Linked DNA regions of Homo sapiens: region 1 is linked to region 2. The links come from fine-mapping of genetic effects on gene expression. Tissue or cell type: whole blood. Region 2 holds a variant in brackets; the other region holds the start of a gene. All regions are shown on one strand. Distances are from middle to middle.

The links. PIP is the estimated chance that this variant, and not a neighbour inherited with it, causes the effect.
Region 1: P2RX5 starts here. The variant in region 2 is fine-mapped to the expression of P2RX5 in whole blood (INTERVAL, PIP above 0.99).

The regions. Positions count from the first base shown.
Region 1 is chr17:3,691,823-3,699,885 of GRCh38, reverse strand. P2RX5 (purinergic receptor P2X 5) reads left to right here and starts at 3,731. Exons shown (of 12, transcript NM_002561.4): 1 at 3,731-4,017. The coding sequence starts at 3,881. P2RX5-TAX1BP3 (P2RX5-TAX1BP3 readthrough (NMD candidate)) reads left to right here and starts at 3,482. Exons shown (of 15, transcript NR_037928.1): 1 at 3,482-4,017. RefSeq lists a silencer at 3,502-3,861 and enhancers at 3,982-4,031, 4,144-4,660, 5,631-5,680, 6,081-6,130.
Region 2 is chr17:3,661,255-3,669,326 of GRCh38, reverse strand. It overlaps CTNS (cystinosin, lysosomal cystine transporter), which reads right to left. Exons shown (of 12, transcript NM_004937.3): 12 at 6,224-8,072. It overlaps TAX1BP3 (Tax1 binding protein 3), which reads left to right and starts at 749. Exons shown (of 4, transcript NM_014604.4): 1 at 749-839; 2 at 4,529-4,648; 3 at 5,055-5,132; 4 at 5,442-6,432. The coding sequence starts at 801. The coding sequence ends at 5,579. It overlaps EMC6 (ER membrane protein complex subunit 6), which reads right to left and starts at 515. Exons shown (of 2, transcript NM_031298.4): 1 at 428-515; 2 at 1-229. The coding sequence starts at 180. P2RX5-TAX1BP3 (P2RX5-TAX1BP3 readthrough (NMD candidate)) reads left to right here. Exons shown (of 15, transcript NR_037928.1): 12 at 1-269; 13 at 4,529-4,648; 14 at 5,055-5,132; 15 at 5,442-6,434. It also overlaps the pseudogene RPL21P125. RefSeq lists enhancers at 1-360, 893-1,423, 1,424-1,955 and a silencer at 462-801. The variant G/TTG (reference allele first, on the strand shown) is at 3,613.

The DNA of each region.
Region 1 (8,063 bases), 31 kb before region 2:
CTTCCTTCCTTTCTTTCTTTCTTTCTTTCTTTTTTCTTTTTCTTTCTCTCTCTCTCTCTCTTTCTCTCTTTCTTTCTTTCTTAGATGGAGTATCACTCTGTCACCCAGGCTGGAGTGCAGTGGCGCGATCTTGGCTCACTGCAAGCTCCACCTCCTGGGTTCAAGCGATTCTCCTGTCTCAGCCTCCTGAGTAGCTGGGACTATAGGCGTGTGCCACCAGGCCTGGCTAATTTTTGTATTTTTCATAGAGAGGGGGTTTCACCATGTTGGTTAGGCTGGTCTCAAACTTTTGACCTCGTGATCTACCTGCCTCGGCCTCCCAAACTGCTGGGATGACAGGTGTGAGCCACTGCATCCGGCAATATTTTCTATTTATTTGCGATAATTGCTCACTACAGTGTTGAACTCCCAGGCTCAAGAGATCCTCCTACCTCAGCCTCCTGAGCAGCTAGGACTACAGGTGTGCACCATCCCACCTGGTCAATTTTTTTTAAGAAGCAGGGTCTCTATCATACAGGCTGGAGTGCAGTGGTGCAATAATGGCTCACTGCAGCCTCAACCCACCTGGGCTCAGGTGATCCTCCTGCCTCAGCCTCCCAAGCAGCTGGGACCACAAGTGTGCACGACCACATCCAGCTAATTTTTTATTTTTTGTATAGAAGGGGTCTCCCTATGTTGCCCAGGCTGGTCTTGAACTCCTGGGCTCAAGCAATCCTCCTGCCTTGGCCTCCCAAGGTGCTAGGATTAAAGGCATGAGCCACTGTGCCTGACTTGGCTAGTTATATATATAGGTGTGTGTGTGTGTGTGTGTGTGTGTGTGTGTGTGTGTGTGTCTGTCTATATATATAGACAAAGTTTTGCTATGTTGCCCAGGCTGGTCTTGAACTCCTGGGCTCAAGCGGTTCTGCTGCTTCAGCCTCCCAAAGTGCTGGGATTACAGGCATGAGCGCCTGTGCCCAACCTATTTTTTTTAATGCTGGTTGTCGCCCAGTAATTTGATGTCATGCCTCACCAGTGGGTCTGGATCTAGTCTCTGAAGCTGTGCAGTAAGGGACCCCGTAAGGATGGGCCTGGTCCTGTCCCCGAGAGCCCTGTCCCCTCTAGATGCCCCTCATGTGGTCTCTAAAGCTTCAGGACAGTTCCGTCAGAAGTTGCAGCCTGGTCTTGGCTGTGCCGTGGGGAGTTCAGGAGGGGCTGCCTGTACTGGAGGGGAAGTCAGAGCAGAGCCCTTCTCTAAAGCCACAGTGGCAGTTAAGACAGGACATGGAGGGCAAGTGCCTGGCAGTTCAGCCTCTCCAGTAGCACACAAAGGTTTGATGAATCAAGAACAGCAGAGTGCCTGGGACTGGGGCTAGTGGTAGGCTCTGCTCTGGGGCCTCACTTACTCACCCCTTCCCTAATCACCCCAGAAAAATGAAGGTCCTGGTCTCTAAAGACCCCTTCAAAGAACAAACAGGCCCTGGAACAAAACCTGGAACTCCCTTGGGGAGTGGAGAGACTCAATGTGGCACCATCTCTGTGACACTCATGTTGTCCTGTGCTGGGGTTGATGGGCAAGCTCTTCTCCAGGGCAGATGCAATTCAGGCGACTCCTGTGAGACTCTGAAAGTCCACCTCCCCTCTATACCTTACCCTGGAGCAGCACTGTCAGGGTGACGGGCATCTTCTTAGGGGTGATGTCACTCGGTGGCGGCTGCTTTAGTGAGCATTGGAGTGCTGTGTTAGCAGGGGGCTGAGGAGGAGGCTGGCAGGAGAGCCAAGATGACTTCAGCCCCTAAAATTCGCAGTCATGACTGGGGCAGGGTGGAATCGAAATGCCCTCCCTGTTGAAAAAAAAAAAAATCAGGGCCAGGTTTGTCCACTCATTCAATAATATGTCTAGAACTATTATGTGGCAGGCACAGGGACATACAGAGATGTCCAAAGGCATGGTCCCTGCTCTCCGGGAGCTTCTGGTCTTAGCATGGGACACAGTCACTAAGTCAACGAGATCCTACTGGATAGTGACAGGTGCTCTAAGGGAATAAGATGAGATAATGGGATAGAAAGTGGCTGGGCTGGGACTGGGGGCTACTTTGGGTGGGCAATAATAACAGGCCTTTTTGAAGAAATGGCAGTTGAGTTGAAATGGATGAAAAGATGCAAAGATCCACGCTTTCCCAAATGACAGTTTGAGAGCAAAATACAGGTTCCCAGCCCCATCTTAGATTTCGTGAATGAAAATTTGAGGGGCAGGGCCTAGGAATTTGCCTTTTTTTCTTCCACATGATTCCCATGCACTTTGAAACTGGACACCTTCCTTGGGGCTTTTACTTTAGAATCACACTGATGAATTTCAGGGTACCTTCCAGTTCCCCGAGTCTGTGGCTTAGGGAAGGGAGCCTCTTTGTGTGTGAAAGCCAGGGGTAGGGAGAGGAGCAGGACTGCTTGTGGTCAGACTGCAGGATGCAGAAAATAAGCGTGCGCAGCTCCTCACCACACCGCGCTCACCCAGGGCCCTGCGTCTTTGGCTGTCAGGAGTTCTAAACCTGCCCCCCCGGAGGCCCTCCCTCATCCCACTCCCACTCCTGTTGAATTCCACATACTGAGAGGGTTGCAGTCATAGCTGCATGGATCAGTTCTATTTCTTGTGCGTTGGGAACCATTCCAAACAGTTGGTACATGCGCACTCTCCAGGCATATTTTTAGGATCCTAGGGTGGGTTGCCTGTGTCTCCCCGCCCCCACCCCGTCTGCCCCCCACCCCCGCACCATCCGCCCTGAGTGTGGGAGGGAGGTCTTCATGCTGCCGGCACTCGGGACCTGCCTGACCACCGACTCCGCCGGAGTGTGGGCTTTTAAACCTGCAGCAGCTGCTGCAGTAGAAACGCGCATTAGTCGCAGCAGACACAGGCAGCCTCAGGTGGGACAAGTCTTGTCTCTTCCAGCCTGTGGGGGAGCCACGGCTTCCCCCCCACAACCACCCCCTGCCCACGGAGCAAGAATGTATCTCCCTGGCAGGAGACCTGGCGCGAGGTGAATGGAGAAACCTGTTGTGTCCCCTTCCTTCCTCCCCTGGCCTCAGTTCCCCATCTATTCAATAGGAAGAACCCTTTGGGATTTCTTTGCGAGAGAAAGGGGAGTTTTGCTTTAAACGGAGCTCTTCCCGGCCGTGCGCGGTGGCTCACGCCTGTAATCCCAGCACTTTGGGAGGCCGAGGTGGGCGGATCACCTGAGGTCAGGAGTTCAAGACCAGCCTGGCCAACATGGTGAAACCCCGTCTCTACTAAAAATACAAAAATTATCACGCCTGTAGTCCCAGCTACTTGGGAGGCTGAGGCAGGAGAATCGCTTGAACCCGGGAGGCGGAGGTAGCAGTGAGCTGAGATCGCACCACTGCACTCCAGCCTCGGCGACAGAGCGAGGCTCCGTCTCAAAAATAAATGAATAAATAAATTTAAAATAAAATAAAAAGGAGCCCTTCCCCCTTTCACTTCCTCTCCTCCGCGATCGCTGCTTTCAGCTGGGCAACAGCACAGGGCGGTCCTGCGCATCCGGGGGGCTGCGCTCCCAGACCGGTGGCTGGGGAGTAGGTTGCAGGGGTGTCACTGTGTCAGGGGAGGAGGAGGAGGAGGAGGAAGAAGAGGTAGCGGCAAGGTCGCGGTCTGAGGTTCCGGTGCTCGCCGCCGCCCAGCTCCCAGCCGAGGCTTTCTCAACCGCGTCAATAAAAGGCCGCCCCGACCCGCCCCCGCGCCCCGCAGCCCTGCCGGACACCCCGGGCTGCAGCTGAGCGGGCGCAGACGGGCCGAGGCGGGCGCCGGGCGCGCAGGGACCGAGGGACCGAGTGCTCCCCATGAGCGCACGTGGGCCGGGCGGTCCGCAAGCCCGGCTGAGAGCGCGCCATGGGGCAGGCGGGCTGCAAGGGGCTCTGCCTGTCGCTGTTCGACTACAAGACCGAGAAGTATGTCATCGCCAAGAACAAGAAGGTGGGCCTGCTGTACCGGCTGCTGCAGGCCTCCATCCTGGCGTACCTGGTCGTGTAAGTTCTCCGCGGACTTTTGGGAAGGCGGGGGAGGGGCAGGGCGGGTGCCAGCCGCCGCGTCCTTCTCCAGGGTCCTGGAATTCGCAGGCGTGCACGCGGTTTTCCCGGTAGCTGGGGGTCTGTGAGCCTGCTTGCTGTGGGGGTCCTCTTTGGGTCCTTGGGTGTAGGAGTAGGGTGTAGAGAGGGGGCTCTCCACTCCCCCACTGGCGCTAGAGGTGATGAGAGGTGGGCAGGGGCCTTCTGGTTTCCTCGATTTATCAGGCTTTCCCTGCAGCTGCTTCTCCCAGAGTCGGGTCCCCACGTGTTAGGGCCATGGGAAGGGGGCAGGGATGCCAGGGGGCTGGGTGGCAGCTGTCGCCCCAGGAGCCTCCCTGGGCCTTGGCCTGGCAGCTGACCCAGGCGCCGGCAGGTTATTTATAATCACAGGGTGTCACTGCCTACTCAGAGCTGGAGAAACTCATCAGCCCGGCATGTTCCTGAGCTCCCTTCCGGTCAACTTGCCCCACCCGCGGCCAGCCTCTCTGGTGTCCAGCTGGGGGTCCTGCCCAGAGGCCTCTATCTCTGCACCCAGCTCGGCCATCCCCTTCCCCCATCCTCATGCCACCTGGCAGGAGCTGGCGCCACAAAGCCAAAGAGGCAACTTGTGGAGGCTGCTCTGCCAGGCGCCTTCAGAGCCCTGACCCCGGGGTGGGTCGGGGGTGAGCAGGTGGAGGGGAGAAGCAGCGCTGGACAATGGGGATGCGCCTCATTCCACTCGTTCAGTAAATGCGGTGGAGTTCCTCCTGCTTCCTCCTGGGAGGGCAGCCCTGACGCCTGGCTCTCCCTCGGAGGTCCAGCAGTCCGCGTTCTCTGAGCTGCATCCCCAGGCCCCTGGCCGCCTCCCACCTGAGCGGCCTCGTAGGCGCTGTGCTGTTGCTCAGCCAGGCCTGCCCGTCCTCCTCCACTCCCTTAGCATCCACTCAGCCCCCAGATCTGGGCTTTCCAGTAACTCCCTCTCCCTTCCTCCCTGGCCTTCCCACAGTGTAATTATTGGGCTTATTTGGGGGATCATTTGCCTGATGTCGCTGTCAGTCCGGGAATGCCCTGAGGGTGGGGCCCCAGCAGCACTTAACTGCTTAGGGAATAGATGTGAAATGAACGCATGAATGAATAAATGGAGTTGCTTTTGCTTGAACAATAGAAATTTAATTCTCGCAGTCCTGGATGTGGAAATCTGAGACGAGGGTGGTAGCATGGTTCGGGGTCTCAGGGGGGGCTCTCTCCTTGGCTTGCAGATGGCCACCCTCTCGCTGTGTCCTCACATGGCAGGGAAAGCAGGACATATTTAACTAAGTACAAGTATGAAAATTAGGAAATTGGCGGCCGGGCGCTGTGGCTCATGCCTATAATCCCAGCCCTTTGGGAAGCCGAGGTGGGTGGATCACCTGAGGTCAGGAGTTCGAGACCAGCCTGGCCAACATGGAGAAACCCTGTTTCTACTAAAAATACACAACAATTAGCTGGGCATGATAGTGGCGCCTGTAATCCCAGCTAATCGGGAGGCTGAGGCAGGAGAATCTGTCTCTATGGATTTGCCTATTCTGGGTATTTCGTATAAATGAAATTGTATAGTATGCGGCCTTTTTTTTTTTTTTTCTGGCTTCTTTCACTTGGTGTCATGTTTTCAAGGTTCACCCATGTTGTGGCATCTATCAGCCCTCCATTCCTCTCTGTGGCTGATACTATCCTGCCGTGTGGGGCTGCCACATTGTGGTCATGCATTCATCAGCTGATGGACATTTGGGTGGTTTTCACACCGCTGAGTGTAGTGGCTCATGCCTGTAACCCCAGCACTTTGGGAGAGGAGACCGCGGTGGCTGGATCACTTGAGGTCAGGAGTTCAAGGCTAGCCTGACCAACGTGGTAAAACCCCGTCTCTACTAAAAATTCAAAAATTGGCTGGGTGTGGTGGCGAGCGCATGTAATCTCAGCTACTCGCACCAGTGCACTCCAGCAGCCTGGGCAGCAGAGCAAGACTGTCTCAAAAAAAAAAAAAGAAGAAGAATGCTTCTGAGAACATTCATGTACAAGTTTTTTGTGAACATGTTTTCAATTTTTCAATTTTTAATTATTATTATTATTATTTTTGAGATGGAGTTTCGCTCTTGTTGCCCAGGCTGGAGTGCAATGGCATGATCTCAGCTCACTACAACCTCTGCCTCCTGGGTTCAAGAGATTCTCCTGCCTCAGCCTCTGGATTAACTGGGATTACAGGCATGGGCCACCATGCCTGGCTAATTTTTGTATTTTTTTAGTAGACACGGAGTTTCACCATGTTGGTCAGGCTGGCCTCGAACTCCTGACCTCAGGTGATCCACCTGCCTTGGCCTCCCAAAGTGCTGGGATGACAGGCGGGAGCCACTGTGCCTGGCCATGTTCTCAATCTCTTGGGAATTTTCTGGCTTATCTGGTAACTCGATCCTTAACCTTTTGAGGAACTGCTAAACTGTTTTCTACCATAACTACCTCATTTTACATCCCTATCAGTGATATACGGGGGTTCTAATTTCTTCACAACCTCATCAACACCTGTTATCTGTAGGGTTTTTAAAAAATGATAGCCATCCTAGTGGAAGTGAAGTGGTGTTTTATTGTGGTTTTGATTTGTATTTCCCTAATGACCAATGGTGTTTGTCATCTTTTCATATGCTTAATTGGGCATTTGTGTATCTCTCTCTCTCTTTTTTTTTTTTTTTTTTGAGAAATGTCTATTCAAATCCTTTGCTCATTTTTAAATTGGATTATTTGGCTTTTTATTGTTAAATTATAAGAGTTTTTTGTATCTTCTGGATACTAAACCCTTACCAGCTACATTATTTCAAATGTTTTCTCCCATTCTGTGGGTTGTCTTTTCACTTTCTTGAGAGTGTCTTTTGATGCATGAACATTTTAAATTTTTATGAAGTCCAACTTACCTATTTTTTCTTTTATTGCTTGCGTTTTTAGTGTCAACAAGTATGGGATTTGTACTCTTATTTCATTTTTTTGTTGTTGTTTTTGAGGCTGGGTCTCACCCTGTCACCTGGGCACAATCATGGCTCACTGCAGCCTCGACCTCCCAGGCTCGAGGGATCCTCCCACCTCAGCCTCCCGAGTAGCTGGGACGACAGGCTGGTGCCACCATGCCTAGATTACTTTTTTGTTTTTCATAGAGATGGGGTCTCACTGTGTTGCCCCGGCTGGTCTCAAACTCCTGGGCTCAAGCGATCCTCCTGCCTTGGTCTCCCAAAGTGCTAGGAGTACAGGCGCGAGCCACCGTGCCTGGCCTGTACTCTTATTTTGTAGAATGCCCCTCAGTTTGGGTTTGTTTGAGGTCTCCTCGTGATTGGTTTCAGGTTAGGCACCATCACAACCCCAGAGGGAGGCGCTGTCACCCCATGTTATGTATGGGAAATTGGCTTGCCTGGGGTCACCAAACCAGTATGTGGCTTCAGCCCAGGCTTGTCCACTTGGGGCCTCTGAGTGGACAGTGGTCTTTGCCTCTTTTATTTATTTATTTATTTATTTTTTGAGACAGAATCTCACTCTGTCGCCCAGGCTGGAGTGCAGTGGTGCGATCTCTGCTTACTGCAAGCTCTGCCTCCCGGGTTCACGCCATTCTCCTGCCTCAGCCTCCTGAGTAGCTGGGACTACAGGCGCCCACCACCACGCCTGGCTAATTTTTTGTATTTTTTTTTTTTTTTTTGAGTAGAGACAGGGTTTCACTGTGTTAGCCAGGATGGTCTCAATCTCCTGACCTTGCGATCTGCCTGCCTCGGATTATAGGCGTGAGCCACTGCGCCCGGCTGGTCTTTGCCTCTTCAGGGCCCCCATCTCTAGGGTTGCTTGTCGCCTCTGCTGCTTGCAGGACTGGGTTTCAGTCAGCAGTGGGAGCTGTGGCCCCTGCCCAGGAGCTGGTGGGACAGGTGGAGCCCTGAGCCTGCTCCACCTCAACTAGGAGTTGCTGTGACTGCTACCCCACCCCAAGGCCTGGGGAAGCTCCCCGAAGCCAGCAGAGTGGCTGA
Region 2 (8,072 bases):
GACGGAGGCGAGCAGGTAGAAGATGAAGCCGTAGAGGCCGGTGAGGCCGAGGATGCCGGCCGTGGCCCCCGACAGCGCTGACACCGAGGTCCGGCAATAATCCAGGACGGCGGCGTTGCCCCGCACGGCCGCCTCGCTGATGAACGGCGGCCCTTCCCGCTTGGCCACCACCGCGGCCATCGCACCAGCCCGGGCTCGGCCTCTCGCTTTCTCGCGGAACAACGCGGAGCTGCGGAGAAAACCAAGTTACAAGTGGCGCCCGGAGCTCGGTGAGTTGGGTTCACGCCGCCCCCTCCCCCTGGAGCTTCCGAGACCTGGCACCAGTCCTGGGCCTCGGATCTTCCAAAGACGCCGAGGAGATTGAGGGTCCGGGCCGGCCGGGAGGTGGTGGCGCGTCTGCGTTCCCCGGCCACGGTGGCCCAGTTACCTGGAACACGGCGCCGGACACACTACTTAGCGTTCCCTCAGACGGGCAGTGGAAGAAATGCCCGCGGCGCCATCTTGCTCGGAAGACTGCCGGGAGGTCTCGGGCTGCGCACGCGCCCAGATCCCGCCCCGCCCTCCGCGCCTGCGCCGTGGGCGCCCCGGACACGCTCCGCCCTCTGCCCGCTTTTCTGCGCACGCGCAGGGACTTCCGAAAGCGGAGTGGCGCTCCGGCCAGTGATTGGCTGGAGGTTTGTTAACTATTCATGAGGGGGCGGGCCGAGCGGGGCGGCCTTTGTTAAGCAGCGAGGGCGCGACCGCGGGTACTCTGCTGCCGGCTTCTCGGAGCGGCGCTGGGCGACCAGAGCAGGGTCGAGATGTCCTACATCCCGGGCCAGCCGGTCACCGCCGTGGTGGTGAGTGCGCTTGCGCGGGCTCCTCCTCGTCTTGGCCTGACCCCACCTCGCAGAGCGGGAAACGGACACCCCAAGCAGGTTGACAGAGCATCGAACCCGGGGCTCCTGCGAACCGGCGGCAAGGGCTCGGGTCCCCGCTTTGCCGGAGCGGGCCGCAGTTCCCCCAGCCACGAAACAGGGATGGCCGGGACCCGAGAGCCTCCCGAGACCCTGGACAGAGCCCAGACTGCGTGCGCAGGGCGGGGAGGGCCACGGGGAAAGGCCTGGCTGCAGGAGCCTGGAAAAGCGCCCCCTTCCCGGGCCTCCGTGTCCCCAGACGGGGAGCTGCTGGGGGCGGGCGCCGATCCCGACGTCCATGAGTCGCAGCCTCTGGAATGAGGAAATGCTTCCTCCGCTGCAGCCTGCGCCGCCGCCCGGAGGGAGATCTGGGGGTGGGGCTCTCCCGAGCCTGCCGTGGCAGCCCCTGCCCCCTTCCTGTCCAGCCTTGCTCCTCCAACCCACTCGCCGCCTGGTCCAGGGTGGACGCTCGTATAGCTGCGATGAGCGTTTCCTCTTCGAACTTTTCCTGGGTCTCCAGCCCTTAAGGCAAAAAAGTCCAGGCCTCCCTCCTGGCACTTGAGTCCTGAGTAGACCCTCCGGGGGCTAGCCTAGGCCCCTGGCCGCCCTCTGGCTTGTTTTAGGTGCTGGGTGCTATTAGACTAGGCAGAGGGAGGAAGGAAGGCTGGGACGTTAGACTCAGACGCCGGTGTCACAGAGGGACACAACCCTATGACAGAGGTGGGGAGTCCCAGAGAGAAGTGCTCAGCCAGAAAAGACCACCTCAGGAAAGACTCAGGTCTCCTGCCTACCTCCCGACAGCGTTCAGAGAATGAGAAGAAATGCCTGCCCGGTGGGCAGTAGGTCAAGCGAAAGTCCCCGCCCTGGAGCCATAGGGACTGGGTGTGTTATCTCAGTTGGGTGTGCTGGAGAAGCTCCAGCAATCAGGTGGGTGGAGGCAGAGAAGCCACTGATAAAGGCGACAAGTGAGGCTGAGCTTAGAGCACTGGCTCAGGCCTGGGCCAGGAGGAAACATTGCTGGACCAGCTGACAGCTGTCCTAAGCTTCACCCTCCCTGCACCAGCTTGACTTTTTTTTTTTTTTTTTTTTTGAGACAGTCTTGCTCTGTCGCCCAGGCTGGAGTACAGTGGCGCGATCTCGGTTCATTGCAACCTCCGCCTCCTGGGTTCAAGCGATTCTCCTGCCTCAGCCTCCCGAGTAGCTGGGATTACAGGCATGCACCAGCATGCCCAGCTAATTTTTGTATTTTTAGTAGAACGGGGTTTCACCATGTTGGCCAGGCTTGTCTTGAACTCCTGACCTCTGGTGATCCACCTGCCTCAGCCTCCCAAAGTGCTGGGATTACAGGCGTGAGGCACCACACCCGGCCCAGCCTGGCTTTTTTAGATCCCTACCTGCCCCAGAGAGAAGGCACCAGGTTTGCTCTTTAGGTAGAAGGGGGGCAGGGACAGGTGAGGAGCTACAGCAAGCCACCTTCTGCGTGACCTCACCCAGCAAATCAGTGACAGCCCTGTCTCCCAACCCAAGGGCCTGTAATCTTCTGACCGTGCCGGCAGAGCAGGCCTGGAGGAGCTCAGTTTGGGGCATGAGGACCCAGGCACAGTAGGCCTCATGCTTCCTGCCCCCCTCCCTCACGCCATAACTGGTCCCAGGGCCTTCCCCAAAACTGCAGGCCCATGCCCCCTAATTCTGGTAACACCAGGAACGTGCCTGGACATGGTGTGTATGGTCTGGCCTCTCCCTCGAGTCTTGGATTGGGGATGGGTTTGGGCAGGCTCACTCCCCAGTCCCCACCCTCTCCCATGTAGAATCCTGAGAATATTAAAGACATTTAGGCCATTCTTCTGAACCCTGGCTCCATAGATCCATCTGCCTTCTGGACACCTGCCCCGCAGCTCCTGGCACTCCAACCTAACCTGCTCCTCCTCCTCCTGGGTCCCCATCTGAATAATGTGTGTTCAGCCAGGCACGGTGGCTGGGTGCTCCTCTTGACTCCTCTCCTCCATGAGTGGTCCCTAAGTCTGTAGATCTCCATTTTCAGGTAGCTCCATGTCCCCCGGCCTCTGCACCTTGCTTTTGTGAGATGTCCGTTCCTCTACTGATTACCTGAGTGGTCATTCTAGCAGCAAACCTGACCATGCCCTACCCTACTCCGTTCCTGAGAACTCCAGTGGGTTCAGGATCAAGGTCAGGCTACCCATCACCCCCTCAAAGCCTGGTGCAAATAATCCTCCCTTTGGGAAACTTCTTTAGGTCTAGTCTAGATTGTGGTCTTCTGCTTTTTTCTTTTCTCCTTCCTGTTAAAACTTGACTTTGGGAGTGATCTGGTCTGGCTCCCAGCATCTGCTGACTGGACGGCGCTTGCCAAGGGCTTTGAAAAGAACCTGGCACAGTTGGGGACCATAGCCCCAGAGCATGGTGGGAACACCCCAGAGCATGGTGGGAATGCCCCAGAACACTCGTTTCTGCACAAGAGCAGGGTCTGGGGCTTAGGGAGACACCCCTGCTCCCCTTCCAGGACGGGATCTGGCCCCAGCCTTACACTTTCAGCCTCATCTCGCCTCCCAGTTCTGTGTCCTGCACTGGACACTCCAGTCTCACGAACACGTATCCACGGCACCCTGTGCGCTGGTCCCCGTGGCCGGCAAGCCCTTCCTCTCCTTTCTTTTTTTTTTTTTTTTTTTTTTTGGAGCCCAGAGATCCTTTATTTTTTTTT[G/TTG]TTTAACACCTATTATGCCATGAATTCATAGGGAATAGGTTCCAGCAGCTCAGGCGCCTTCCCGTTGGTTCTCACAAAGTGTGCTTCCCTGGGTGGAGCAGGCTGGTGCTTTAGTTGAACCCAGGTACCTTTCTCTTTGGCTTCTTTCTTTTTCTGATCATTTTCCTTCACGCGTTCCAGGAAGCTATCTCGGCTCTTAGAGTGCTTTATGTGCTCAATACGCACATTAATTCTCTTGGCAAGAATCTTGCCCTTAACTTGTTTGTTTACAACAATGCCAACAGCATGCTGGGGAACATTGTAGACTCTTCCAGTTTTGCCATGGTAACCCTTGTGGGGCATTCCTTTTTGAACAGTACCCATTCCCTTGATGTCTACAGTATCACCTTTCTTATAGATTCGCATATATGTGGCCAAAGGAACATCTCCATGTTTTCTAAAAGGCCTAGAGAACATATATCCGGTGCCTCTCCTCTTTCCCTTTGTGTTCGTCATTTTGGCGAATTACTGGAAGATGGCGGTTCCGGCCGAAAGGAAACCCCTTCCTCTCCTTTCTATGCAAGTTTGATCTCTGCTTTTCCAGAGCACCTCCTGTGAGACGGGCTTCCCACCTACAGAAGCCACAGCACCTGGACTCTTGGGCCAGCAGGGGCTTCCACCACATGTTGACCAAGACTAGTGCCTAAGACTAACAGGGGAAGTGGGGACAGGTTGAGGACACAGGGCTGTGTGGGTGGATCAATGTGGCCAAGTTCTGAGTGCCAGCTCCTCAGCCTCCCAGGCTGGTGAGCAGCTGGATTCCTGCAGGGGCCTGGGACCCAGCCCCTTGTCATGGCTCTGAGGCTGCTGCTGGGAACACCCACCAGCCTAATTCTCCAACCACCCACTTCTCTCAACTGGCTTTTTTCTTTGCCAGCAAAGAGTTGAAATTCACAAGCTGCGTCAAGGTGAGAACTTAATCCTGGGTTTCAGCATTGGAGGTGGAATCGACCAGGATCCTTCCCAGAATCCCTTCTCTGAAGACAAGACGGACAAGGTGAGGGGGTCTGGGGTCCTGGGACCGCTCCATGGGGCACAGGGGCCTGAGATGGTGGGTCTCTGCTTCCTGGGCCTGCATGGAAGGAACAGACTTCATCTCTCAAACCATGCTCTCTAAGAAGGCATCGGAAGTGACCTAGTGAGAATAAGGACGGGTGGGGTGAGGAAGGGCTGCTCAGACAGAGCCCAGGAGGAGCAGGAGGCGGCCATCAGCAGGGCCGGTGCATGGTGGTGCAGCAACTCTGCCCCGGCTCTCTCAGAACAGTCCTCACTGACCATATGTGCTGGGAGAGGCTGGGTGCAGGGACAGAGGGACGGCTGAGAATGTGCCATGCTGGCTTCCGCTGTGTGATAAGGGGCCAGTCCAGTGACCACAGGGCTTGACTTGGGCTGCCCCTTTCCAGGGTATTTATGTCACACGGGTGTCTGAAGGAGGCCCTGCTGAAATCGCTGGGCTGCAGATTGGAGACAAGATCATGCAGGTAACAGGTGTCCCAAAGGAGGAGAAACAAGGTTTGGGCAAGCAGGTCTGAAGCACTTGGGGGTGGGGAGCTGCCCCAGCCTCCCAGCTGGGAGAGACTCACTGCAGCCAATTGGGAACCCATACTGGCATTGCCCCAGAGGACGCTGGCTTTCTCTCCTGTGTGTCTCAGCCACAGTGCTTGGTGTCTCCCAGCCCTGGGATGTTAGGCTGGGGGCCTACTTGAATGACCTGGGCCCCCAAAGCCCTCTGCTTCCAGATCCCAGAGGGCGGGGAGCTGAGGTGAGCCTGTGTTCTCTCCTGGGGCCAGGTGAACGGCTGGGACATGACCATGGTCACACACGACCAGGCCCGCAAGCGGCTCACCAAGCGCTCGGAGGAGGTGGTGCGTCTGCTGGTGACGCGGCAGTCGCTGCAGAAGGCCGTGCAGCAGTCCATGCTGTCCTAGCAGCCACCACCATCTGCGACTCCTGCCTGCCGCCTCTCTGTACAGTAACGCCACTTCCACACTCTGTCCCCATCTGGCTTCTGCTGACCGCTGGGCCCCAGCTCAGAAGGGCTATAGCTGGTCCCAGAGGCCTGGCCTGGCCTTCCTTCCCTTCTCCCATCCCTGGCCTGGGGCCTCTGGGACCGGCTTTCTCTCCTGGACACCGAGGATTGGAAATAAGGGCCTGGAGCTGAGTAGTAGCCAGTCTGCTGTGACCACAGGCTCAGGTCCGACCCTGCTGCTTGGCCACAGCAGTGGCTGGGCAAGTGGGAACCACTATCTCTTGGGAGCCCCCAAAAGCTGGGAAATGCTGGAGGAACCAGGCCTTTCCCGCTTTTGCCTGGCTGCAGGGTTCGGCTCCGCCCCTGCCCCCCAGCCCTCGTGTGTCCACACCGCAGTGCCTCTGCCCCTCGGGGGACTGGACACACATCCTGCCAGAGGCGCTACGAAGCTTTGCCCAGATGAAGCCAGGTGGGCTCCGCGTTCACTCCCACTCTCCCGAGGGGTGCTGGCCTCCCCAGGGTTTGCCTTCTTACGGATTTAGACGAGGTTCGAGGCTCACCTATCAGGGCAGCTCTCAGGATTGTCATTTTCCTCTTTGCCTGTGGGTTTAACTTTTGTATTTTTTTAATCACAAGTTTGATACAAAATGTTTTTATCGTACTCTTTGGAGATGCCCATTCTACTTTTGAATTTAGCTTTTACTAATTCGCATCTGGAAGCTCAGCAAGTGCACAAGCCTTACTTTGGTTACCGTGGAAACCACTGCCGCCCCTCCCCGATGTGGTGCGCTCAATAAAAATGCTGGAATTCACAGGGGGCTTTGCTGAGGCATGGGCTGGGATATCGGGGTGGGGGTGGCGGTGGGATATTGGGGCCAGAGCTGTGGTTTTAATGATGGCCCCATCCCCCACTGTTCTGGGACAAAGCTCAACTACTCCCAGGCCCACCTGCCTGAAAGCCCGGGGCTGGTGGAGCCGCAGCAGCTGCACTGCGCCTGACCAGAACCACATCTGTGGGAGTGTCTGGGAGCACTGGGGTGGGACCCTGGGGTGCGTGTGCTTTCTTGGGTGTTACTGTGAAGCCCCTACTTGCTCCCAACCTCCTTTTTGCAACCTAGCCTCAGCTCCCACCTGGGAGGGGCCGTAGGGACACCCAGAGGTGCCTGGGAGAGACCCCTGCCTATAAGACTCCCTGCCTATAAGGGCACTCCGTGTATCCCAGCGAGGGACACAACCCCACGTGTTGCTGGGGGCCGTGATCTGGCCAGATGGGGGTGAGTCAGAGAGCACCTGACTACCTGCGTACCACCTCTGGGAAGGTGTTAGCACTCCTGGACCTACCTAGCACTGCCAAATCAGATTTTAAAGAAAAGTCAATAATTTTTTTTTTTTTTTGAGATGGAGTTTCGTTCTTGTTGCCCAGGCTGGAGTGCAATGGCGTGATCTTCGCTCACTGCAACCTCCGCCTCCTGGGTTCAAGTAATTCTCCTGCCTCAGCCAACCAAGTAGCTGGGATTACAGGTGCCCGCCACCATGCCCAGCTAATTTTTGTATCTTTAGTAGAGATGGGGTTTTGCAATGTTGGCTAGGCTGGTCTCGAACTCCTGATGTCAGGTGATCCATCTGCCTTGGCCTCCCAAAGTGCTGGGATTACAGGCGTGAGCCACCGCACTCAGCCGGAAAAGTCAATCATTTGAAATCTCTGATTTTTAAAGTAGGGCACCCAGTAACACATTTACTGGGTGTTGCAAGTGAAACAGGTCTGTGGACCCCGTCAGGCCAAAGTCTGCTCTGCAGAAACAAGACCTGACATTCTTTGACGTTTGTTACAACTAGATAGAGGAAGCGTCTGGAGAATAAGACCCCCACTGCCCCCGCTCCCAGTGCTGGTGTGCCCTTCAGAACCTCATCCACCCCGGCTCACATCCAGATTGAGTGGCGTGCCCTGGTAACCGTGAAGACACGGAGCCTGGGAGACTGACCTGGCCCTGGGCGGGTAGGCGTCTCGCGCTACCCAAGAGGGCTCCCCAGTGAAGTGTGGGGTCAGCACGCAGCGCTCTCGGGTCAGTGACCTTCACAACCTTATGCGCTTCCTTACACGAGGGGAGCAGGGCACCTGGCTCTGAAGGCCAGCACACCTGCCTTCTGTATCGAGCACACAGAGTGCAGAAAGGAAGCGAGTAGGTTTTAATTCAAGATACAGGCCCCTCGCGTTGATCTCGTAGAAGGAAACTCAGTGGACTGACAAGCTCAAGTCATGTATGAGGCACGTCCTGGGACCCCCACCCCTCCTGCCATAGGAAGGACAGCTTTGGGCAGAGGGAAGGAGGTTTGAGATCAGGGTTGGGCCCATACAGATTGTGTGAGGTGGTCTCAAGTACAAATACTTATCTGAGGCTCCTGAACAGGCCAGAAATTGGTGAGTCTCAAGTAGGTGTCTGGGGAAAGAGAG